Homo sapiens: one gene and its partners. Changing the gene in region 1 together with any one later gene gives a genetic interaction. Each region holds a gene or a part of one and is shown in the gene's direction. Other genes may lie near its edges.

Evidence for each region.
Region 2: changes in MED23 (region 1) and RFC5 together harm fitness more than expected from each alone (negative genetic interaction), as found in Homo sapiens cells (one large-scale study listed by BioGRID).
Region 3: changes in MED23 (region 1) and RPTOR together harm fitness more than expected from each alone (negative genetic interaction), as found in Homo sapiens cells (one large-scale study listed by BioGRID).
Region 4: changes in MED23 (region 1) and TIMELESS together harm fitness more than expected from each alone (negative genetic interaction), as found in Homo sapiens cells (one large-scale study listed by BioGRID).
Region 5: changes in MED23 (region 1) and RNGTT together harm fitness more than expected from each alone (negative genetic interaction), as found in Homo sapiens cells (one large-scale study listed by BioGRID).
Region 6: changes in MED23 (region 1) and SCO1 together harm fitness more than expected from each alone (negative genetic interaction), as found in Homo sapiens cells (one large-scale study listed by BioGRID).
Region 7: changes in MED23 (region 1) and MTRES1 together harm fitness more than expected from each alone (negative genetic interaction), as found in Homo sapiens cells (one large-scale study listed by BioGRID).

The regions. Positions count from the first base shown.
Region 1 is NC_000006.12:131,621,743-131,625,242, reverse strand, and holds part of MED23 (mediator of RNA polymerase II transcription subunit 23), read left to right. Parts: intron 1-253; coding exon 254-378; intron 379-1,780; coding exon 1,781-1,892; intron 1,893-3,263; coding exon 3,264-3,362; intron 3,363-3,500. UniProt on the Homo sapiens protein: Required for transcriptional activation subsequent to the assembly of the pre-initiation complex. Component of the Mediator complex, a coactivator involved in the regulated transcription of nearly all RNA polymerase II-dependent genes.
Region 2 is NC_000012.12:118,023,203-118,026,702, forward strand, and holds part of RFC5 (replication factor C subunit 5), read left to right. Parts: intron 1-1,648; coding exon 1,649-1,808; exon of another isoform or gene 1,809-1,812; intron 1,813-2,544; coding exon 2,545-2,626; intron 2,627-3,500. UniProt on the Homo sapiens protein: Subunit of the replication factor C (RFC) complex which acts during elongation of primed DNA templates by DNA polymerases delta and epsilon, and is necessary for ATP-dependent loading of proliferating cell nuclear antigen (PCNA) onto primed DNA.
Region 3 is NC_000017.11:80,963,853-80,966,868, forward strand, and holds the end of RPTOR (regulatory-associated protein of mTOR), read left to right. Parts: intron 1-409; coding exon 410-478; 3' UTR 479-2,516; downstream 2,517-3,016. UniProt on the Homo sapiens protein: Component of the mechanistic target of rapamycin complex 1 (mTORC1), an evolutionarily conserved central nutrient sensor that stimulates anabolic reactions and macromolecule biosynthesis to promote cellular biomass generation and growth.
Region 4 is NC_000012.12:56,428,927-56,432,426, reverse strand, and holds part of TIMELESS (protein timeless homolog), read left to right. Parts: coding exon 1-58; intron 59-822; coding exon 823-956; intron 957-1,458; coding exon 1,459-1,546; intron 1,547-2,145; coding exon 2,146-2,322; intron 2,323-3,326; coding exon 3,327-3,500. UniProt on the Homo sapiens protein: Plays an important role in the control of DNA replication, maintenance of replication fork stability, maintenance of genome stability throughout normal DNA replication, DNA repair and in the regulation of the circadian clock.
Region 5 is NC_000006.12:88,953,619-88,957,118, reverse strand, and holds part of RNGTT (mRNA-capping enzyme), read left to right. Parts: intron 1-3,500.
Region 6 is NC_000017.11:10,673,534-10,677,033, reverse strand, and holds part of SCO1 (protein SCO1 homolog, mitochondrial), read left to right. Parts: 3' UTR 1-3,500. UniProt on the Homo sapiens protein: Copper metallochaperone essential for the maturation of cytochrome c oxidase subunit II (MT-CO2/COX2). Not required for the synthesis of MT-CO2/COX2 but plays a crucial role in stabilizing MT-CO2/COX2 during its subsequent maturation.
Region 7 is NC_000006.12:107,031,199-107,034,698, forward strand, and holds part of MTRES1 (mitochondrial transcription rescue factor 1), read left to right. Parts: intron 1-3,500. UniProt on the Homo sapiens protein: Mitochondrial RNA-binding protein involved in mitochondrial transcription regulation. Functions as a protective factor to maintain proper mitochondrial RNA level during stress.

The DNA.
Region 1 (3,500 bases):
ACTACTTTTGAAGTTCCCATGTAATAAAAATGGTAGCATTTTATCTATGTAATTACAAAATGTTAAGCTTAATGTGACAAATACTAAATCTGAATTTTTTAATTTTGCTTTTTTTAAAAATTATTTTCATCCACAGATGCTCATAGTGAAGTATTTCTTTCATAGTATTGGTATACTTCCAGTTGTAGTATTAGCTATTGGTTATAAAAATGTAACTTTAGACCCCAAGTAAAATCATTCTCTCATTTTCCAGGAGTCTCATGAACAGTGTATCCAGTGGATTGTTAAGTTTATTCATGGTCAGCATAGTCCTAAAAGAATTTCTTTTCTTTATGACTGCTTAGCAATGGCAGTTGAGACTGGTCTCCTTCCACCCAGGTACGTTTAATGGGTATGAGCAATCTGAAGAATTTTCTTTTCTATATGTGATTGGAAATTGGTTGAGGTTGTTGTTGTAAAAAGGTAAGAGAATGAAGAAGAAGGTGAGGTTTATCAAGTAATCCTTTATATAATACCTCAGGTTTTAGTTTCTAGGAGTAATAGTCTTTGAATTAGGTAATGCTTGTGGGCTCAAAACCAGATGTTTCTGCCCAGGGGCTGAAATTAATCACTTTAATTAGTTTGTAACCCTTTACTTTTGCTGCACAACCTCAACACCTTATGGCTTAAAACAGTAATACTCAGGTTTTAAAATTATTCATGGTTTTAGTGGTTGACTCGGCTTAGGAGACACTTTTTACTCAAGGTCATAATGATTGTGATCAATGTGGCTAGGGCTGGAGCATGGCAAAAGCTTCCCCACTCAGATATCTGGTGGTTGATTCCTGGCTGTCATCTGGAACCTCAGCTGGGATTATTAGCCAGAACCTCCGCAGGCCCTCACCTTGTGGCCTAGACTTTCTCACCTCATGGTGGAGCCTAACAGCAAGTGTGCAAAAGAGGGCTAGGCAGAAATTGTATCACCTTGTCTTCTTGGAAGTCATACTGCATCCTTTTGGCCATAGTCTTAGGTCTGCCCAGATCTAAGGAGTGAGAACGTAGACTTTCCCCCTACCTCTCCTTGGGAGAAATGTCAGTGTCACATTTCAGAAGAAGATGTGGGATCAAAAATCTTGTTGCCATCCTGTTGGAAAAATCCAGTGTACCACAAGGTGATAGATGGTAAACATCTAACCGAAAGCTTTAGATAGACTTCTTTCTAGTAAAATATAACATAATGAATATTATTTCATTCTTACTTTGTTTTTGATCTTTCATACAAGTAAAAAATGTAAAATACTACACAGATTTATAAGTGTGCTTAGTAATCACTTTTATGAAAGACACTTGTGAGGATAAATATAATACAGTGCACAGACTATGGCTGTATTAGTCTGTCTGATGCTGCTAACAAAGATATACCCGAGACTGGGTAACTTATAAAGGAAAGAGGTTTAATTGACTCACAGTTTGGCATGGCTAGGGAGGCCTCAGGAAACTTAGAATAATGGCAAAAGGCACCTCATCACAGGGTGGTGGGAGAGAGAATGAGTGCCCAGTGAAGGGGGAATCCCCATATAAAACCATTAGATCTTGTGAGAACTAACTCACTATCATGAGAACAGTATTGGGGGAACTGTCCCTCATGATTTAAATGGTTTTTCTCATGACACGTGGGGATTATGGGAACTACAATTCAAGATGAGATTTGTGTGAGTACACAGCCAAACCATATTGGCGGCTATTAGAGAACTTGGAAAATTCTGTCTTGTAACTGGAATGGCTATTTCTTTTTTTATAGGCTGGTTTGTGAATCCCTGATAAACTCTGACACTCTTGAGTGGGAAAGAACACAGCTTTGGGCCTTAACATTTAAACTGGTTCGGAAAATAATTGGGGGAGTGGATTACAAGGTATATTTTTCTTATTATAAAAAGTGATTGCTTTCAGATATGATTGATTTTTCGGTGTGCATGTCTTATTTTCAGGTGAGAGAAATGATGTGGAAGCATTTACAAAATCTGTCTATTTCTTGTGGTATATTTCCTGAAAAGATTTAAAGTTACTCAGTTGTTTCCCTGGCTCCGCTACTCCCCTCCCAACATTCTTATAAATACAGGTAGCTGATACATTTTTATGAAGAGCAGGGAAGTCACAAAGCAGAATCCGTGTTCCTTCATGCTGCAAGTATTATGATCCCTTCAAATGAAAGCACAGAGCAGGGGTGTGTGGAACTGAGAAGGGATGTAGGCATCACTGATGAAGGGAGCAAGACCTGGCTTCACTTCTCTTGAACGTGGGTCTTACCTCAATTAATATCTTCAGCACTTTGGGCTCTTGACCAAAAACAACATACACTTTCTAGTTTTGTCTCATAAAACGGCTTAGGGACTCCATAGCTACAAAAGCCATTCTGCATCTTCAGGAGACTTTTGTTATTGTCCTTTTCCCGGGAATTACCAGTGTCTGACCCTGTGCTTTATTTCTGCATTTTCTCTAATCTGAAATGATTTAACAGGTAATGACCTAACAGATAATTATTAGTTTAAATCATGATTTATCACACAGTTAACTCTAAGAAGCTTTTGCTAATTATTTTCTCTTTACTCAGACTTATGCAATTTTCTTATTTGTATGATACTTCATAATTGTTCTTTTAGGTATATGTTCTGTCTTTTACAAGCTTGGTTACGTAGTTCATAGTCAATAAATAAATGTTGAATGAAATTTCTTCTTTATATATCAGATAATGTAACTGGTATTGGATATGTGGAAATGATTAACAGAATAGCCTTGGATATCCTTGAGAGATTAAGGTATGTGATGGATGAGAAGGGAGAATAGGCCAGTCACAGTGGCTTACACCTATAATCCCAGCACAAAAGGGAGTGAGCAGAAACAGTCCTCTACCAAAAAGTTTGATATTGTTACTCAAGTTTTCAGAGTGCATTGAAGTCTTGTTACAATATATTTCTGTCTATATGTATAATTAAGGTTTTTGACCCTTGTAACAACGTAAACCCTTCTAATGTTATGAGGGCCAAAAAAGCTTGACAAACTGTATAATGACTTTCTTTGCTCATTGTATTTTAAGACAGTCTTTAGAACTCTGTTTTGGAACATGACTCTTCTGTTGGGTTAATGTTAGGGACTTAGATTGTAACTGATTCAGAAAATTTAAAGGTGTGACCTTGAAGGAATATATCACCCTGAAACCTTCGGACGTTTTAGCTAACACAGTAGACACTACTTAATTTTAACCCATGTCTTTTTTCTTATATCAGGGTGTTCGAGATCTCTTAAAAGTGATTTTGGAGAAGATTTTGACAATTCCTAATACAGTGAGCTCTGCTGTTGTACAGCAGCTTCTGGCAGCAAGAGAGGTAATTTAGACATGTCTGAAATTCGTGATCATAACCTCAAAAAAGTCTAGCTTTGTTTAGGTCTGTGCTTTTAATACTTACGGTATTTTGTGAGATGCTCTATTTCTTCTACCAAAAAAAAATCACTTCTATTTTAAA
Region 2 (3,500 bases), on another chromosome or scaffold:
TGATTTGGCAGCGGGAGGGACAGCACCCTGCGATTTGTCTGTCTTCAGGGGCCTAGCGCAGTTCTTTTCTCTTAAAGGACACTTGTCATCTCTCATTAAGATTCCAAGTGAATCAGCTTTGAGAGAAGAACGATCTTTAGGAGTTTGTGGCGAGGGAGTAGATGGCAGCACATGTTAAGAGAAGGATGGGGGAAGGGGGAGGAGGAGGAGGGGGGAGGAGGGGAGGAAGAGGAGGGGGTGAGGAGGAGGAGGGGGAGGAGAAGGCGGAGGAGGAGGGTAGGGGGAGGTGGAGGAGGAGAGGTGGGGGAGGAGGAGGAGGAGGAGGACAGCGAGAATATCTTCTGGTCCTAGAAGCTTGGCAGCCTTTCTTCGGCATCTTGTTCTGCCGAGTGACTGTCATTCTGGGCAGATCCCCATGTGAGAACATTGGGTACCTACAGAATGGAACCGGTGTCATAAGCAACTCTTTGTTCGGGTTATTGCTCCCTTGAGTGCTCTAAGGCCTCCAGACAGTCTCCATGGAAAAGTCTGCAAAAAGCCGCCCTCCCTGCCCATAGAAGGTGAAGTGTCATCAACCTGCCAAATATAATTTTATGTAAAAGGACAAGAAGTCTCATAGTCTTAATGGGATTACATGGCAAAAGTGCCAGAATCATGGCAAATGGTAAAAAGGAAGCATTTTGTAAAATCCCACGGAGGCATGTTTACCAGTTTGTGAAAGAGGGGTGGCTAGGCAGGGCGCAGTGGCTCACACCTGTAATCCCAGTACTTTGGGAGGCTGAGGCAGGCATATCACCTGAGGTCAGGAGTTCGAGACCAGCCTGGCTAACCGATGAAACCCCATCTCTACTAAAAATACAAAAATTGGCCTGGCACAGTGGCTCATGCCTGTAATCCCAAAGGCCAAGGCGGGCGAATCATGAGGTCAGGAGATCGAGACCATCCTGGCTAACATGGTGAAACCCCGTCTCTACTAAAAATATAAAAAATTAGCCGGGCGTGGTGGCACGTGTCTGTAGTCCCAGCTACTCAGGAGGCTGAGGCAGGAGAATCGCTTTAATCCGGGAGGCAGAGGTTGCAGGGAGCCAAGATCGTGCCATTGCACTCCAGCCTGGGCAACAGAGCGAGACTCTGTTTCAAAAAAGAAAAAAGAGGAGTGGCTAATCTCTGATCTGAACAGGCCAGCACTGCCCTGTCTTGTCATAGGCTGCAGCCTCACTTGTTTACATTCTTTCTTTTTTGAGACAGAGTCTCACTCTGTTGCCCACGCTGGAGTGCAGTGGAATGATTTTGGGTCACTGCAACCTCCACCTCCCGGATTCAAGCAATTCTCCTGCCTCAGCCTCCCAAGTAGCTGGGATTACAGGCATGTGCCACCACACCTGGCTAAATTTTGTATTTTCAGTAGAGGTTTTGCCATGTTGGCCAAACCTCCTGACCTCAAGTGATCCTCCCGCCTCAGCCTCCCAAAGTGCTGGGATTACAGACGTGAGCCACTAAGCCACTACGCCCGGCCAACATCCTCACTTGTTTGCAGTATTGAATCTTTTCCTATACCCTTGTGACCACAGAAAAATTCAAGTTTTCTGGGCTCTCTGAAAAATCAGAATGGACTTTGACATGAGGTGGTTTTATTTTCTCTTACTAGTAATTGAGAAATTCACAGAAAATACCAGATTCTGCCTCATCTGTAACTATCTGTCAAAGATCATCCCTGCCTTGCAGTCCCGCTGCACGAGGTTTCGGTTCGGTCCCCTGACTCCTGAACTCATGGTTCCCCGCCTGGAACATGTCGTGGAAGAAGAGAAGTGAGTATTTTGCGGGCCTTTGGGGATGGAGTGTAGTAGAAACAGGCTTGTGGGATCACTGGCTGGTTCGTATGTAGAGGAGAGGAATGTTGGAAAACGACTTTGCAGAGTGCCTAGCACAGGGGAGGCACTGGGGACCGTCCACTGCTATCATTTTCTCTGCTGTCTCAAGGCCATTCCTCATAAAAGTCATTTGGTACTTCATTTTTCTTGATTCCATCCTCCTCCCCTGGAAGCTGTCCCAATTTCCTCCTACTCTTCTTTGTCATTGGAAACTGCAGGCTGCTGAGTCCCTTCTGCAAAGATGCTTCCAGCCTTTTTAGACTAGAAGGGAAGGTTCTAAGACATCACATTCTGTGTAGTCAGATGCCAAGCAAGTAGCCGACCTGAGCAGCTGCTTGTTGTGAAGGAGGAGTTTCGGCTGTGTGATCATGGCTTGTGCCAGGCCTCTGTCCTCCCCAGAGAGCAGAATTCAAGACGACTGGCTCCATGGGAGAATGCTTGTTCCTAAATTCAGGCTGTTCTCGATTTTGGTTGGCTGTGACTACTAATGTGAAGCCCAGGTCCCTAAAAACCAGAGTGAATTCTAGATCATATAGATCAGGAGATTATTAACTCTGTTCCTCTCCTTCCTTCATCCCTTTAAAGCCTTAATCATTCCAGGCCATCTTGTTCCTTTGGTGAATGCTGGTGCTCTCAGGGGGCCTCATAAATCCCTTTTGCTTATTTCTTTCAGAGTTGATATAAGTGAAGATGGAATGAAAGCACTAGTCACTCTTTCCAGTGGAGACATGCGTAGGGCTCTGAACATTTTGCAGGTATGGTCTCAAGCAAATCCTTTTTTTTTTTTTTTTTTGAGACAGAGTCTTGCTCTGTCGCTCAGGCTGGAGTGCAGCAACACAATCTCAGCTCACTGCAACCTCCGCCTCCTGGGTTCAAGCGAATCTCCTGCCTCCTGAGCAGCTGGGATTACAGGTGCCCGCCACCACGCCCTACTAATTTTTGTATTTTTAGTAGAGATGGGGTTTCGCCATGTTGGTTAGGCTGGTCTCGAACTCCTGACCTCAAATGATCCATCTGCCTCAGCTTCCTAAAGTGCTGGGATTACAGGCATGAGCCACCATGCCCAGCCTGGTCCCAGCAAATCCTGAGTCATTGTTTTGTAATAGTTTTTGAAGAAAGACCTAAGCAAAGGCATGATCAATCTGTAAATTTTGAAATCTACAGCTGGTAAGACCTTGGTCTCATAACCTGCAGGATTCCCCCTCCTCACTTTGTATTTTGATTAATTGAAAAAATCACTTGTTGCAGGCCAGGTATGGTGGCTCACGCCTGTAATCCCAGCACTTAGGGATGCCGAGGGAGGTGGATTGCCTGAGCCCACGAGCTGGAGACCAGCCTGGGCAACATAGTGAGACTCTGTCTCCACTAAAAAATCATGAGCCAGGTGTGGCGGTGCACACCTGTAGTCCCATCTACTCAGGAGGCTGAGGCAGGAGGGTGACTTGAGCCTAGGAGGTCGAGGCTACAGTGAGCCATGATCATGCCACTGCACTTCAGCCTGAGCAACAGAGCAAGACCCTGTCTCAAAAAACAAAGAGAGAGCAAAAGAAAATGTTTTAAAAACAAAAGGAATCATTTGTTGCAAAGAAGGCAAAGGGAGGGAAGGATTTGGCACTGGAATAGCCAACA
Region 3 (3,016 bases), on another chromosome or scaffold:
GGGCCCCACCTGCACGGCTCTCTGGCCTTGGTTGCAGCCTCCCCACGTGGCTTCAGGCCGTTGTTTTTAGATTAGGATTCTGCCCACCTGCCGCCTTGTGTTGTGAGGCTCCAGGCATGTAGCTCTGCTGACACGTGTGACATTGGATCCCAGAGCTGCCCCGTGGGGCAGTCCTGAAAAAACCACGCAGGGCCCGGGGCAGCGCCACGCCCCTCACGGAGTGCACCATGCATGGGCCCTGCAGAGGACTGGTGGGACCGGCCCGGCATTTCCGGGCCTGAGGTGGGCGTGGGGGTTCCTGAGACCCCGGCAGGAGCTGCCTAAGGATGCGGGTTGGCCTGCGCCCCCCCGCCCCCCGCAGTGTCTGCCCGCACCTGAACCCCTGCTCACCCCTTCTCTCTCCTTGCAGCCTCACCTGGCCGTGGGAAGCAACGACTACTACATCTCCGTGTACTCGGTGGAGAAGCGTGTCAGATAGCGGCGTGACCCGGGCCCACCAGGCCACGGCCGCCTGCTGTACATAGTGAAGCTGTCACTCGCCGGGGCACGGGGCGTCGGCTGCTGCGGCCCCGCAGTGTGAACGTTGGCTGCTGCCTTAGCTGCTGATGACGGCAGGAGGGCCCTGCTACTCGCTTTTGTCTGTCTTCGCTGTCGTGTCTGGAATGTCAGGGAAGGGGAGGGCTCGGGTTGACGGTGGCTTCCCACTGAGCACCAGCATCCAGGTGCACCCCCGCGGCCACGGCGCCTCTGTCCCTCTCCTGTTCTGTGTTTCTCTGAGACGCTGAAAGGGGAAACACCTCACTTTATTTCCATGTAATCAGAGCATTAGCTGCAGAAAAACCCCCCGACAGAGCCCTGGCGGAGAGGCAGGCGCTGGGGCTCCTACGGGTCCCTGGGGCAGCTGTCCCCATCAGGCCAAGAGCGAGCGAGAGGCGCTGCCCCAGCCAGGCCCACCACCTCTCACAGTCAGTGCACGCAAGCAGGGACATTTCCTAGCCAGCTGGGGGACACTGGAAATTCGGGAAACCAAGAGAGAGGAAGAAGGAGACGCCCCTCCAACTGGCGGGTGTGAAGGAAGCCGCCCAGGGGTCCGGGCTGTCCTTGGCCGCTGGCAGCATCACTGAGCAGGAAGCGCACAGCCCACCCTCCCCGCACCTCCAGGTCTCTGGACTCCAGTTTTGGCCCCTCTCACACAGAGCTGTCAGCAGGGGCCGCTGTGGCGGTGCACAGGGGAGGCAGGTCCTTGGCGAGGTAGCCCCTGCCTTAATCCACGGGGCTCCTTTCCCTCCGAAGGGCTGCTCTTCCCCACAGGCGCGGGGACAGCAGCCCGACCTGTGGTCTCCATGCCTGTGCCCTCACACAGGTGTAGCACACGCATGTGCAGATGGCACCACGGCCGGCACCTGGGGGCACACACATGCAGGCGGCGTGGTCTCCCTGCTCTGTCCCCACACGTTCCTCACATACAGGCAAGAGGCACTGCCGGGTCCCGGACGGCTCCGGGTGACACCAGCCCCGTCTCCAGCCTTGAGCCGCCCATGCTGATGCGACCTCGGCTGACAGCTGGGCCTGTGGTGCAGACAGGAGCTGTGTGGACAGTCCCGCCCAGGAGGGGCCGCAGGGCGTGTATGAGCAGTTTTGCAAACAGAACACAACCACAATGATGGTATTTTGAAAAGTGTTCTTTCCGTGTTCGTCGGGAATCAGGATTATTGAGAGGTGAAGGAGCCAGGTGGCTTCATTCTGGCGGTGAGAGGCCCACGACCACGGGAGTGAGAGCTGGTGTGGCGAGGCCCGGCTCTCCTGCGGTGTGGCTGGTGGCCTGCCGTGGCCAAGAGCATCTTCTGGGTGGATGGAACCCTGCCTGGTCACATTTGGCCAGAGACACACCTGGCCCTCAGGGGGCTGAGCTGGAGACTGAGCTGGGGCTGGCCGGGACGTGACAAGGCAGGACAGAGGCGGCCCCTCCGCTGCTCCTTTTTGGAATGCGAGCTCCCACCAGAAGAAGGTTCCGGCACGAATCCCATCCCCACGTCTGGGCCGAGAAAGCAGCCCGGGTCCGGAAGGTGTAGAGAGTCCCGGCCTCACTCAGCTCACAGGGCGTGCCAGGCGGCAACACCAGAATCTTCCAGAAGCCCAGCTCCACCCGCACACGCAGCTTCCCATCCAGTCCTTCAACTCAATTCTTACCCAACACGCGTTTCTGTTTGTTTTGAGACAAAATCACCACCTGTCAAAAGGCAGGTGGCTCCAGAGGGGTCAAGACCCCCCCCCGCCCCCGCTCCACCCTGGAGCCCACCCCCATGGGCACCGCGTGCCGCCTGCACGTGGGCTGTCTTCACAGGTCTGATGTGAAAATTCAATCACGACGTTAACCGGCTCGAGAGAGCGCCGGCCTAGAGGCTCATTATCTATTTATTTTACCAAACGCGAATTGAGACGGACTTTGACAAAACACGAAATGGTAATGTGAAGCTAAGAGCAGAGAGTGACCAACAGTAAACAACACGCGCAGACTCCGCGGCTGGCGGCTGTGTCTTTAAGGAAACTGCCCACCCCACCTCAGGGGGGCATCGGTCAGAGCAGAGCTCTGGGGGGTGGGGGGACGTTGCCCGGGTCCCCCCTGCTGTCCCCAGGGCCACCAGCAGCTCTGCGTCCCGGGTGCTCTCCAGGCAGGCACTGTGGCCACAGGGGGCCTGGCACGTCGAGTGTGCAAAGGTCTCGGTCCTTTTCTCCCAGGCAGTGCCCCCAGCCCTGTGGCGCAGACCCCACATCAGGGAGCGTACTGTGTGGCAAGAGCCATCTTGTGACGTAGGCCAGACACGTGTCTTTCTCTTTAAAATGACGGTTATCCTCTCACGGTTAGAGGCCCCATTCAAGTCTGCATTGAAATCTGGGCCACGTCAGAGTTCCTGGGGGAGAAGCCGCTTCCCCGCTCCTCCCCACTTCTGGAGGCCCCCACTCTCCTTGGCTCGTGGCCCCTTCCTCCAGTTCAGGGCCTCTGACCCACGCCCAC
Region 4 (3,500 bases), on another chromosome or scaffold:
TGAGGAGCAATGGAGCCTACATGTGCTAGAGATTGTCTCCCTTATGTTTCGTGACCAGGTGAGACCCTGGCCTATTGCCCGAGTCCCCTCCGCCCATGTACTTTTCTGCTGTACAGCCAGAATTGCTCTTGTGATAATGGCTGCATTATCTGGGGAAGGCAGGCGACAGCAGGAGTAGCCATGTCTTGAGTTCAGTAGTACCCCCTTATTCATGGTTTTCTTTCCTTGATTTCAGTTACTCACAGTCAACCATGGTCTGAAAATATTAAGTGGAAAATTTCAGAAATAAACATTTTAGAAGTTTTAAACTTGTACATTGTTCTGAGTAGTGTGATGAAATCTTTTGTCCCTGTTTGTCCTAAACAAGATGTGAATCATCCCTCTGCCCAGCATATCCACAGTGTATACCCGCCTGTTAGTCATGTACTAGCCATCTTAGTTATCAAATTGAAAAAACATAATAGAATATGTGTATGTGCGTATATATATATGTATACATGTTCTGTTTTCTGATAACTATATATATAGCACATATATACATTCTATAAAACATAGAACGTACATGTTCTATGTATATGTGTATACACATACAAATATATATATGTATATATGAATATATACATATATATATTTCAGTACTGTCTGCAGTTTCAGGCATCCAGTGGGTGTCTTAGAACATTTCCCCCTCAGATAAGGGAGAACGACAGCACAATGCCCCATTAATGGGGTTCTATTTTGTTCACTCTTTGCATCCCCAGTAGGCGTGAACTCAGGATAAGGAATGACTGTCCTCCTGATTCTTCCCTCTTTGTTCCAATCTAGAACCCCGAGCAGCTGGCGGGAGTAGGGCAGGGACGCTTAGCTCAGGAGCGGAGTGCAGATTTTGCAGAACTGGAGGTGTTGCGCCAGCGAGAGATGGCAGAAAAGAAGACTCGAGCCCTCCAGCGAGGCAACAGGTGAGTGACAGAGAGGCAGGTTCTTTTTCCTACATCATGGAATGCTGAGGGCATAGAAGGCAAATTCTAAGGTGGGGTGATTGAACAACATTTTAGTGTTTTTTTTTTTTTTTTTTGAGACAGAATTTTGCTCTTGTCGCCCAGGCTGGAGTGCACTGGCACGATCTCTGCTCACTGCAACCTCTGTCTCCTGGGTTCAAGCGATTCTCCTGCCTCAGCCTCCCCAGTAGCTGGGACTACAGGCGCATGCCACCATGCCAGGCTAATTTTTGTATTTTTAGTAGAGACAGGGTTTCACCATGTTGGCCAGGCTGGTCTCAAACTCCCGACCTCAGGTGATCCGCCTGCCTCAGCCTCCCAAAGTGCTGGGATTATAGGCGTGAGCCACCGTGCCCGACCAACATTTTGTAGTTTTAACTTGCTCCAATGTGCCGATGATAGAGAATGGAGATAAAGTTTCCAGAGAACTGAAAAATCACCTTGGACCTTTTTGTTTCTGCAGGCATTCTCGATTTGGGGGCTCCTATATTGTCCAGGGGTTGAAATCCATTGGGGAGAGGGACCTCATCTTTCACAAAGGCCTTCACAACGTGAGTATTCTTACATCTGGAGTGGGAACATAGTGGAGTTGCATAGCTTAAGCAGGGTAATCATCTTAAGAGTTCTTGGCTGTGCCTGGTGGCTCACACTTGTGGTCCCAGCACTTTGGGAGGCTGAGGCAGGAGGATTGCTTGAGCCCAGAAGTTCAAGATCAGACTGGGCAACATGGCAAGACCCTGTCTCTAAAAAAAAAATTAAATTAAAGGTTGGGTACAATGGCTCATGCCTGTAATCTTAACACTTTGAGAAGCTAAGGAAGGAGAATTGCTTGAGCCCAGGAGTTCGAGACCAGCCTGGGCAACATGGCAAAACCCTGTCCCTACAACAAGTGAAAAATACTAACTGAGCATGGTGGCACCCGCCTGTGGTCCTGACTACTCGGGAGGCTGAGGTGGGAGGATTCCTTGAGCCCAGGAGTTCAAGGCTCCAGTGTGCTATGATTGCATCATTACACTCCAGCCTGGGTGACAGAGCAAGTTCTTGTCTCAAAAGAAAAACAAAAATTAGTTTCTTCTGAGAAAATTGACGAGAGCTGCAAGGGGAAAGTGGTATTTAGGAGTAATTCTAATCCCCCAACCGACACACCCAGCTACGAAACTACAGTTCAGATTTGGGAAAGCAGCCGAAAAAGGTGCCTAAACGTCGCCAGGCCGCCCGAGAGCTGTCCATTCAGCGCCGTTCTGCCCTCAATGTGAGGCTCTTCCTCAGAGACTTCTGCTCTGAGTTCCTGGAGAACTGTTACAACCGGCTCATGGGATCAGTAAAGGTGAGAACCTGTGAAGGATATGGAGATAATCAGGAATGGAATAGACAGGTGATGATGCAGCTGTTGGTGGGTAAGAAGTGGGGAGGAGCTCGGGGAGGCTGCCCCTGGAATGTGGACTCGTAGGTGGGAAGGATATACAGTTAGGATGTCCCTGAGAGATAGTGAAAATGCCAGGAACGAGTGGGCTCCTGGCATGACAAAAGAGGCTCTGGAAAAATTGCCTCAGAGGGAGAGGAAAGGGAGAACAGGAGAGAGTTGGAAATTGTGGATCCTAGAGTATTATAGCGGTGTCCCGGCGTGGTGGCTCACACCTGTAATCCCAGCGCTTTGAGAGGCTGAGGCAGTGGATCACTTGAGGTCAGGAGTTCAAGACCAACCTGGCCAATATGGTGAAACCGTATCTCTACTAAAAAAAAAAATACAAAAAAAAAAAAAAATTAGCCGGCATGGTGGTGTGCATTTGTAGTCCCAGTTACTCAGGAGCCTGAGGCAGGATAATCACTTGAACCTGGGAGGCAGAGGTTGCAGTGAGCCGAGATCAGACCAGTGCACTCCAGCCTCATCATGACAGTGCAAGACTGTCAAAAAAAAAAAAAAAAAAAAAAAAGACCAGGCGCAGTGGCTCACGCCTGTAATACCAGCACTTTGGGAGTCCAAGGCAGGTGGATCACCTGAGGTCAGGAGTTTGAGACCAGCCTGCAACATGGTGAAACCCCATCTCTACTGAAAATACAAAAAATTAACTGGGCGTGGTGGCGGGCACCTATAATCCCAGCTACCCAGGAGGCTGAGGCAGGAGAATCGCTTGAACCCAGGAGGTGGAAGTTGCGGTGAGCCGAGATCATGCCATTGCACTCCAGCCTGGGCAATAGAGTGAGACTCCGCCTCAAAAAAAAAAAAATTATGACGGTGTCCAGCATCCATTCCATCATCATAGGACAGGAAGGAAGAAGTTGGAAGCCCTGGAGTCATGGTGATCTTTTTTTTTCTTTTTTAAATGTCAGGATCACCTGCTTCGGGAGAAAGCTCAGCAGCATGATGAGACCTATTATATGTGGGCCTTGGCTTTCTTCATGGCCTTCAACCGAGCTGCCTCCTTCCGGCCAGGCCTGGTTTCTGAGACCCTCAGTGTCCGTACCTTCCACTTCATTGAGCAGAACCTCACCAACTACTATGAG
Region 5 (3,500 bases), about 43 Mb from region 1:
ATCTATTGAGATGATCATGTGATTTTTGTTTTTAATTCTGTTTATGTGACGTATCACATTTATTTTTATTTTATTTAGTTATTTTTGAGACAGAGTCTTGCTCTGTCACCCAGTCTGGAGTGCGGTGGCACCATCTCAGCTCATTGCAACCTCTGCCTCCCGGGTTCAAGTGATTCTCCTGCCTCAGCCTCCTGAGTAGCTGGGACTACCTGCCACCACGTCTGGCTAATTTTTGTATTTTTAATAGAAGCGGGGTTTCACCACGTTGGCCAGGCTGGTCTTGAACTCCTGACCTCAAATGATTCACCCACCTCGGCCTCCTGAAGTGCTGGGATTACAGGCAAGAGCCACCACGCCTGGCCAACATTTATTGACTTGTGTATGGTAAACCATCTCTGCATCTCTGGTATGAAACTCACTTGATCATGGTGTATTACCTTTTTGATATGCTTTTGGATTTGGTTAGCTGGCATTTTGTTGAGGATTTTTGCATCTATGTTCATCAGGGATATTGGTCTCTAGTTTTCTTTATTGTTATATTGTTTCCTGGTTTTGGTATTAGAGTGATACTGGCTTCATAGAATGATTTAGGGAGGATTCCCTTTCTCTGTCTTTTGGAATAGTTTCAGTAAGATTGGTAGCAATTCTTCTTTGACTGGTAGAATTCAGCTGTGAATCCATCTGGTCCTGCACTTAAAATTTTTAAATTTTAATTTAATTAATTTATTTTTGTTTTCTTGGACTTTTTTCTTGGCAGTTTTTTTATGACTGTTTCAGTCTTGCTACTTGTTATTAGTCTGTTCAGAGTTTCTCTTTCTTCCTGATTTAATCTAGGAGGGTTGTATATTTCCAGGAATTTATCCATCTCCTCTAGATTTTCTAGTTTGTGCATATAAAGTATTCATAGTACTATTGAATGATCTTTTATATTTTTGTTGTATCGGTTGTAATATCTCCTGTTTTGTTTCTAGTTGAACTTACTTGAATCTTCTTCTTTTCTTGGTTAATCTTGCTAATGGTCTATCAATTGTGTTTATATTTTCAAAGAACCAGCTTTTTTTTTTTTTTTTTTTTTTTTGAGACAGAGTCTCGCTCTGTCACCCAGGCTGGAGTGCAGTGATGCCATCTTGGCTCACTGCAACCTCTGCCTCCTAGGTTCAAGTGATTCTCCTGCCTCAGCCTCCCAAGTAGCTGGGACTACAGGTGGCCCGCCACCACACCCGGCTAATTTTTTTGTATTTTTAGTAGAGATGGGATTTCACCATGTTGGTCAGGCTCAAACTCCTGACCTCAAATGATCTGCCTCCCTTGGCCTTCCAAAGTGCTGGGATTACAGACGTGAGCCACTGCACCACATCCAGAACCAGTGTTTTGTTAATCTTTTGTGGATGTTTGGTATTTTTTGTTTGTTTGTTACAGTTTAGTTCTGCTCTGATGTTTGTTACTTCTTTTCTTCTGCTGGGTTTGGGTTCAGTTTATTCTTGTTTCTCTAGTTCCTTGAAGTGTGACCTTAGATTTTCTGTTTGTGCTCCTTCAGATGTTTTGGTGTGGGTTTTTTTTTTTTTTTTTTGAGATGAGTCTCACTCTGTCACCTGGGCTGGAGTGCAGTGGTACGATCTTGGCTCACTGCAACCTCCGCCTCTTCTGTTCAAGCGATTCTGCTGCCTCAGCCTCCTGAGCAGCTAGGATTACAGGCGCCCGCCACCATGCCTGGCTAATTTTTTGTATTTTTAGTAGAGACAGGATTTCACCATGTTGGCCAGGCTGGTCTCGAACTCCTGACCTTGTGATTTGCCCGCCTTGGCCTCCCAAAGTGCTAGGATTGCAGGCATGAGCCACCACGCCTGGTGATGTAGGTATTTAATGCTATGAACTTTCCTCTTAGCACTGCTTTTGCTGTGTCTCAGAGGTTTTGATAGGTTGTGTCACTGTTATCATTCAGTTCAAAAAATTTTTAAATTTCCATCTTTATTTCATTGTTGACCCAAAGATTATTCAAGAGCAGAAATTTTAATTTCCATGTATTTGTATAGTTTTAATTTTTATTTATTTATTTTTTCTGAGATGGAGTCTTGCTCTGTCACCCAGGCTGGAATGCAATGGTACGATCTCAGCTCATTGCAACCTCTGCCTCCCAGGTTCAAACAATTCTCCTGCCTCAGCCTCCCTAGTAGCTGGGATTACAAGCCCGTGCCACCATGTATTTTTAGTACATGGCTGGCTAATTTTTGTATTTTTAGTAGAGGCATGGTTTTATCATGTTGGCCAGGCTGGTCTTGAACTCCTGACCTCAGGTGATCCACCCACCTCAGCTTCCTAAAGTGTTGGGATTACAGGCATGAGCCACCACGCCTGGTCGTGTATTTGTATAGCTTTGAGGGTTCCTTTTGGAGCTAATTTTCAGTTTTATTCCACTGTGGTATGAGAGGATACTAGATAGAATTTCAATTATCTTAAATTTATTGAGACTAAATATCTGTTAAGTCCATTTGTTCTAGGGTATATTTAACTCTATTCTTTTTTTGTTGACTTTCTCTCTTGATGACCTGTCTAGTGCTGTCAGTGGAGTATTGAAGTCCCCCACTATTGTTGTGTTGCTGTGTATTTCATTTCTTAGGTCTCTAGTAGTAATTGCTTTACAAATTTTGGAGCTCCAGGGTTAGGTGCATATATAGGATTGTGATATTTTCCTGTTGGACGAATCCTTTTTTTCATTATATAATGTCCTTCTCTGTCTTTTTGAACTGTTATTCCTTTAAAGTTTGTTTTGTCTGACATAAGAATAGCTATTCCTGCCCGCTTTTGATTTCCAGTTGTGTAGAATATCTTTTTCTACCCCTTTACCTTAAGTTTATGTGAGTCCTTATGCATTAGGTGAGTCTCTTGAAGGCAGCAGATACTTGGTTTGTGGGTTGTTATCCATTCTGCCATTCTGTGTCTTTTAAAAGGAGCATTTGGGCCATTTCTATTCAATGTTAATACAGTATTGAGATAAGGTACTGTTCTATTCATAATGCTAGTTGTTGCCTAAATACCTTTTTTTAAAAAAATTCTGTTATCGTTTTATAGGCCCTGTGAAATTTATGCTTTAAGGATGTTCTATTTTGGTGTATTTTGAGGTTTTATTTCAAGGTTTAGAACTCCTTTTAGCATTTCTTGTAGTGTGTCTTTCATTTCTTGTAGTGGCCAATTCTCTCAGCATTTGTTTATCTGAGAAAGACTATCTCTCCTTCATTTATGAAGCCTAGTTTTGCTGAATACAAAATTCTTGGCTGACAGTTATTTTGTTTCAGGAAACTAAAGATGGGACCCCAATCCCTTCTGGCTTGTAAGGTTTCTGCTGAGAAATCAGCTGTTAATCTGTTAGGTTTTCCCTTATAGGTTATCTGAGGCTATTGTGTCACAGCTCTTAAGTTTCTGTCCTTCATCTTGACTTTAGATAACCTGATAACTATGTGCCTAGGTAATGATCTTTTTGTGATGAATTTCCTAGGTGTTCT
Region 6 (3,500 bases), on another chromosome or scaffold:
CGCCCGGCCTAGTTTGTGCTTTTTACTTACCAGTTAGGGGTTATATTACTGTGTAACAAAATGGACGGTTATTTCTATTCATTAACAAGATTCAAGTAATAGCCTCTTTAGCCACATATTCCTTAATAACACCTTTAGACCTTATAGGGGTAATTATTTTCTATATACTTTTCCAATGTATTTGAAAGTTTGTTGGCTCTTCTTCCGTAATTATACTATATCCTCAGTAAAGAAAGTTTGGCATACAGAAAAGTTGAAGGAAGAAAATTTTCAATCACTGTTGTTCCACTACCAAGAAATAATACTTGGAGGTATTTCCTTTCAATCTTCAACATGAGGATGCTAATGTCCCCCTCATAAGGGGCCTTAAAGTCACTGACTCTGTGCACTATTTCATGAGAACATTGATGTGGGTATTTAACCGAAAGAAAACTTGAGTTTTCTTTTTTTCCTTTTTATTGTGAAAATTTGGAAACTTATTCAAAAAGTAGAATAGTTAACTAATTGATGTACCCATCAGCAAGCTTCAGTGATTACCACCATTTAATTTTGTCTGCACCCCCCCACCCACTGCCACCCCAGCCCATTCCCAGCATGTGCCTCTGAAAGAGACCAACTTTGTCCTTTAAAAACAACCACAGTTGGCTGGGCACGGTGGCTCATGCCTGTAATCCCAGTACTTTGGGAAGCAAAGGCGGGTGGATCACCTGAGGTTGAGAGTTCGAGACTGGCCTGACCAACATGGAGAAACCCGTCTCTACTAAAAATACCAAAGTTAGCCGGGCGTGGTGGCGGGTGCCTGTAATCCCAGCTACTCGGGAGGCTGAGGTAGGAGAATCGTGTGAATCTGGGAGGCGGAGGTTGCAGTGAGCCGAGATCACGCCACTGCACTCCAGCCTGGGCAACAAGAGTTGTCTCAAAAAACAAAAAAGAAAGAAAGAAAAAAACAACCACAGTTTCATCAGCACAGCAAAAAGGTTTTTGTTTTTGCTCTTGGATTTTGTCGTTTGGTTTTTGCTTAATATCAAATATCCAGTCAGTGTAAACTCGTTTATAATTTGGTCCTTTGATTTCAAGGAGCTATGATGCAGTTCGTTGTGGGGATGTGTTGTCTCCATGTCATACATGTGACTTTGTCCATGTTTGCACCCAGTTCAAGGAAGACACAACCCTAGGGAAAGACAACCCTCCCCGCCAAGCCTCTCTTCCCATTCTTAAACATAGGGTGGCGTTATTCAGGTTGGACCAGTTTAAAAAGACTAACGCATTTGTCCTCGTTGTTGGGTGTTTTTTTTCTTTAAATTTGTAAAACAGGAATAATTGTGTTAGGATGAAGTATGATACTAGGAGAACAGGGAAAACTAACCCATCGTGTTAAAAGTCAGAATAGTGCTTAACTCTGGCAGGAGGTGAGATGGTTAGTAATTCAGAAGGGGGTGCCAGGAGAGCTTCCAGAGCCATTGAAATGTTCAGTAGCTTGATCTGGGTGATGATTTACATACATAAAAACATATTAAACTTTGAACTTAAGATTTATGCCTTTTACTGTTTGCACCCTATAACTCCAAAAGAAAAGTAGAGGGGAAAAAGAGTCCCTGCAAAAGGCAGTCTTGAAAGAAAGCAAGTCTGTGATGTGGAGAATGCATTGGACAGCTCTCAGCAATTTGCTGTAGCTTGGGCAGAGAGATAAAAGCTAATGCCAGCATCAGGTTGCCCAGGCGAGAGAAGGCCTGAAAGAAGACAGCGTGGAGAAAGTGTCAGCAAGCTTCAGCAACAGCAGGAGGCAGATGGTAGGAGAGTGGGCCTCAGGTGTGGTGTGGCAGAGCAGAGTAGCCACACTTAGGCCCCAGAGACAGTGTCTTCTCACCCTCAGTTGAAGGGGCAGGAAATCAATCGCTCTAGTCACCCCTAAGCTGGAGGACGGACCTAAAGTTGCCACAGCTTTGAGAGGCAAAGAAGTTTGCTCAGTGGCTTTTAGAGACTTCTAGGGCCCTGGGACCCTGACACTGAGGAGGAGCAAACTGAAGGGGAGAGTGGGCACATTCCTTGTTGGCTGCTGTGGTGAGCAGCAGCTGGTCGTTGTCAGTCAAGCTCCGGACCACTCTGATGATGCTCACTGCATTTTGATGGAGTAAGCCAGGGACATTACCACTGTGTTTGAGCCATCTGAAGTATTCCTGGGTGGGTCTGCAGTTGGCAGCCCGTGATCCTTTTTCCATTCAAGGATGATGCAAAGGTAAGGGGCCAAGGCTGAGCTCTGTAGATGCCTGTGAGAGCCTCCTGGTCTCAAGAGGTCATACCAAGGGCCTTGGCCACCAAGGTTTCGTGAGGACCTTGAGGTGGTTTCGCCATCACAATGTCAGACGTGTCACACACCATCTGGTATGTCCTCACTGTATAGAGGAAGAAGGGCCCAAGTGGTGAATTATCTACAAGTTTGTAGCAAAGCTAATACTCAGACTCCCTCTACAGCCTTGCTACTCAGTGTAGTCTGTGGTCCGGCAGTGTCACACCACTGGGGTACTTAGCAGAAATGCAGCTTCTCAGGCTCCACTCCAGCTCTCCTCAATCACAGTCTGTTTTTTTGTTTGTTTGTTTGTTTGTTTTGAGATGGAGTTTCGCTCTTGTTGCCTAGGCTGGAGAGCAGTGGTGCGATCTTGGCTCACTGCAACCTCCACCTCCCTGGTTCAAGTGATTCTGCTGCCTCAGCCTCCCAAGTAGCTGGGATTACAGGCGCCCGCCACCATGCCCGGTGGCGTGCATGGTAATTTTTGTATTTTTAGTAGAAACAGGATCTCGCCATGTTGGCCAGGCTGGTCTTGAACTCCTGACCTCAGGTGATCCACCCGCCTTGGCCTCCCAAAGTACTGGGGATTACAGATGTGAGCCACCACGCCTGGCCCACAGTCTGTATTTTAACAAGATCCCCACCTCAGTCTTAGGCACATGGATTCTCCTCAACCCCCAATACCACAGAGTCTATTAATTTTTACCCAATAGGGAAGGGGAAAAAGTCAAGAAAGAATAATGAATTAAGTAATCTTTCCCCCTCCAGGAAGCTCTTTATTTAATTTCGCTCCCATGAAACACAATTTGAAGAGTCTCTCAAATAAACAAATTCCATTTTCTGATAATTATTTAATTGCCCCACTTTTGAAATTTTTGTCAAAGACGACTGTCACTCCCTGTCAGAACTTCTATTCAGCACAGTATACCAAGCGTTTCTCCATCGAGTTGTTATAATATGATCAAAAAGCAGGGAGAGATGCTGCTTGGTTACCCTGTGGGGCCTTATCGGGGCTCAGTGCAGTCTTTCCATGTAGGCATTCTCAAATACTCAATTGAAACCTGATTGAGGATCATTTGATCTCTGTTGGCCCTAGTGCAGTAGGCTGCTGAGAACCACTGATGCAATAGACTGAGAGACTAACTGCCTGCTTCCCTGTCAGCCCAGGCTCTGCTAAGGCCGTCTTAGTTACAGAAGAAAGTGGGGCAGAGAG
Region 7 (3,500 bases), about 25 Mb from region 1:
GTGAAACCCTGTGTCTACTAAAAATATAAAAAGTGGCCGGGTGTGGTGGTGGGCGCCTGTAATCCCAGCTACTCTGGAGGCTGAGGTGGGAGACTATGGCTTGAACTGGGGAGGCAGAGGTTGCAGTGAGCCAAGATCGCGCCACCCACTGCATTCCAGCCTGGGCAACAGAGGAAGACCCTGTCTCAAAAAAAAAAAAAAGAAAAAAAAAGAAAAAAGGAGAAGAGAAGGAGGCAGCAAAGGAGTCTTTTCTTTTTTTTTTTTTTGAGATAGAGTTTCGCTCCTGTTGCCCAGGCTGGAGTGCAATGGCTTCGGCTCACTGCAGCCTCCGCCTCCCAGGTTCAAGTGATTCTCCTGCCTCAACCTCCTGAGTAGCTAGGATTACAGATGCCTGCCATCGTGCCCAGCTATTTTTTTTTTTTGAGACGTCTCACTCTTGTTGTCCAGGCTGGAGTGCAATGGCGCAATCTCAGCTCACTGCAACCTCTGCCTCCCGGGTTCAAGCGGTTCTCGTGCCTCATCCTACTGAGTAGCTGGGATTACAGGCACGTGCCACCACATTCAGCTAATTTTTGTATTAGTAGTAGAGACAGGGTTTCTCCATGTTGGTCAGGCTGGTCTCGAACTCCCGACCTCAGGTGATCCACCCACCTCGGCCTCCCAAAGTGCTGGGATTACAGGCATGAGCCACCGTGTCCGGCCAGCAGAGGAGTCTTGAGAAGCAGCAGCCACAGGAGAGACAGGAAGAAAACCAAGAGTAAGGTGTCTTGGCGACCAAGTGAAGAAGAGAGGCGTGATCGGTTTTTTCAAGTGCTGCTGAGGAGTCAATTAAGATGAGGACTAACATGACCTTTTGGATTTAGAAAATGAAAGGAGTGGAATTGAGGAGAGTTAGACAACTGTTTTGAGAAGTTTTATGGTAAAGAGGAGCAAGAAAAGAGGTGGTAGCTGGGGAGGAGTGGAGGCAAGAGGTTTGTGTAATTGCTTGCTTTTGAATGAGACAAAAGTAACAGCATCCTCTCCTTTACTATAGCCACCCCCACGTTGATTCATTTCCTCACATATGCCAAGTGCCTGGCTAGGCCTTGGTAAAACACGCAATTCTTGTCATCAGGGAACTGCCATTTAAGTGGAATGTGGGCAAGTAAACTGACTGCCAGGGCACACATGTAAAAGCAGGTCCAGGGGAGGTTGAACCCTGCATCAGCTGGAGCTCAGAGCAAGAATGCCTGAGCTGGGTGCAGTGGATCACGCCTGTAATTCCAGCACTTTGGGAGGCCGAGGCAGGCGGATTACAAGGTTAGGAGTTCGAGACCAGCCTGGCCAACATAGTGAAACCCCATCTCTGCTAAAGATGCAAAAATTAGCCAGGCGTGGTGCCGTGTGCCTGTAGTCCCAGTTACTGGGGAGGCTGAGGCGGGAGAATTGCTTGAACCCAGGAGGCGGAGGTTGCAGTGAGCTGAGCACTGCACACCAGCCCGGGTGACAGTGCAAGACTCCATCTCAAAAAAATAAAAAAATGCCTGAGCATCCTTGAATGCTCATCCTCATTCATCCTTGAATGAGAGAAAAATAACAGCATGCCAATGGACTGGTCCATTATCAAGCAAAAAAATCACTGTTGTAACTTGATATTTCCCCATAGCTCGGTTTCAGGCCACCTTTGCTCTCAGAACTTTGTAGGCATCCTTGCTCTGCGCTCCAGCTGGTGCAGGGTTCAGCCTCCCCGGACCTGCTTTCACATCTGTGCCCTGGCAGTCAGTTTACTTGTCCACATTCCACTTAAATGGCAGTTCCCTGGTGACAAGGACTGTGTGTTTTATACCAAGGCCTACCCAGGAACTTGGCATATGTGGGCGAACGAGTGATTGTAGGGGTGGCTATAGTAATGGGCAGGATGCTCATTTCATTTCTAGAAATTGAATCTGCAACCATTCACTGGTTTTGGTATGTCCTGAGCAGAGGAGTGAAGAACAGGGCACTGTGTAGTCCCTATCACTACACTTAGAGTTTGGGAGATAATTTGTGACTTAATTCAAAAGTAACAAAAAAATGTGTAGTGTTGGTGCAACCAGAGTATGGAAAAGGGCATGTGGGGCATGGCTTGGTAGAGGAGGATGTGACTCGTGTGGAGTCTGGAGGAAGAGGAGACCATGACAAAGGGACAGGAATTTTTCAGTAGTAGATTTTTTTTTTTTTTCAAGTGAGCTATAAGGAACCCAGTATTCTCCAGTGCTGCTTTGGCTTGAGAGGAGCTGGGTGCCTGGTTAGCTTTCTTCTCTGGCACCCCCACTTCCAACTCAGGGCTCCCCTGACCAGTTTCAAAGTCCTGAGGCAGGGCCGGGCACGGTGGCTCACGCCTGTAATCCCAGCACTTTGGGAGGCTGAGCTGGGCAGATCACGAGGTCAGGAGATCAAGACCATCCTAGCTAACATGGTGAAACCCCGTCTCTACCAAAGATACAAAAAATTAGCCGGGCGTGGTGGCGGGTGCCTGTACTCCCAGCTACTTGGGAGGCTGAGGCAGGAGAATGGCAGGAACCTGGGAGGCAGAGCTTGCAGTGAGCTGAGATTGTACCAATGCACTCCAGCCTGGGCGACAGAACAAGACTCCGTCTCAAAAATAATAATAATAATAACAAAGTTCTGAGGCAGAATCTGGGTCCTCCCTTGTGACCCTGAGTGCCCACTGCTAACAACTACAAATGGTCATCATCTCCAGCAAGAATTAGCTTAATGTGTTTCCTCAATTTTATGTTTTTAATGAATTTTATCTAAGCTTCCAACATTTGCCAATGTTTGCCTGCTAGAAAGTTAAGCTGATCACAATGAGAGGTAGTGAGTAGCTAATAAACACAAGGGAATACGTGGCTTGACATTTTGGTATGTTTGTTGAATTTACAAGTGCACCTGATTCTAAATAGTTATTTTCTGCAAGGAAAGGTTTCCTAATGCAGGTAGCAGAGAGCCACATCATATCTAGGCATTCCTCAAAGTAAACAACGGTACGGTATAAAGCTAGGACTTTTCTCAAAGTCAGGAAAAGAGTGTAAAAAAGATACTGAAAAACATAAAAATAGAACTTATGGATGGGGAGTGTGGGCACCCAGGGTCTGACACAGAAACAGGACTACTTCCCTTCCCTAGGTGTCTCCTCTTAGGATATTTTCTAAGTTGGGGCAACAGTTCCTCCCACTCTTCTACCCCTGAAAACTATCTGTTCTCTCTGGTATTGCACTGGTTGGTGAGTTTTTATTCCAGAAAAAAAAAAGGAAAATAGATGTCAGGGTGTGGAAGAAAGAGTGCTTAACTTGGAGTCAGAACACTGATGGACAGTTCAGCATGGTAGTAATGAGTCTAGGCTTTGCAGCTCGGATGCCTAGATTTGAAGAGTATCTGTGTGACCCTATAACTGAGATGGGCTTGTCGCAAGGAACAAATGAGTTAACGTGTAGAGCAATGCCTGGCCCACGGTGAAAACAATGAGCTTTAAGGAGACT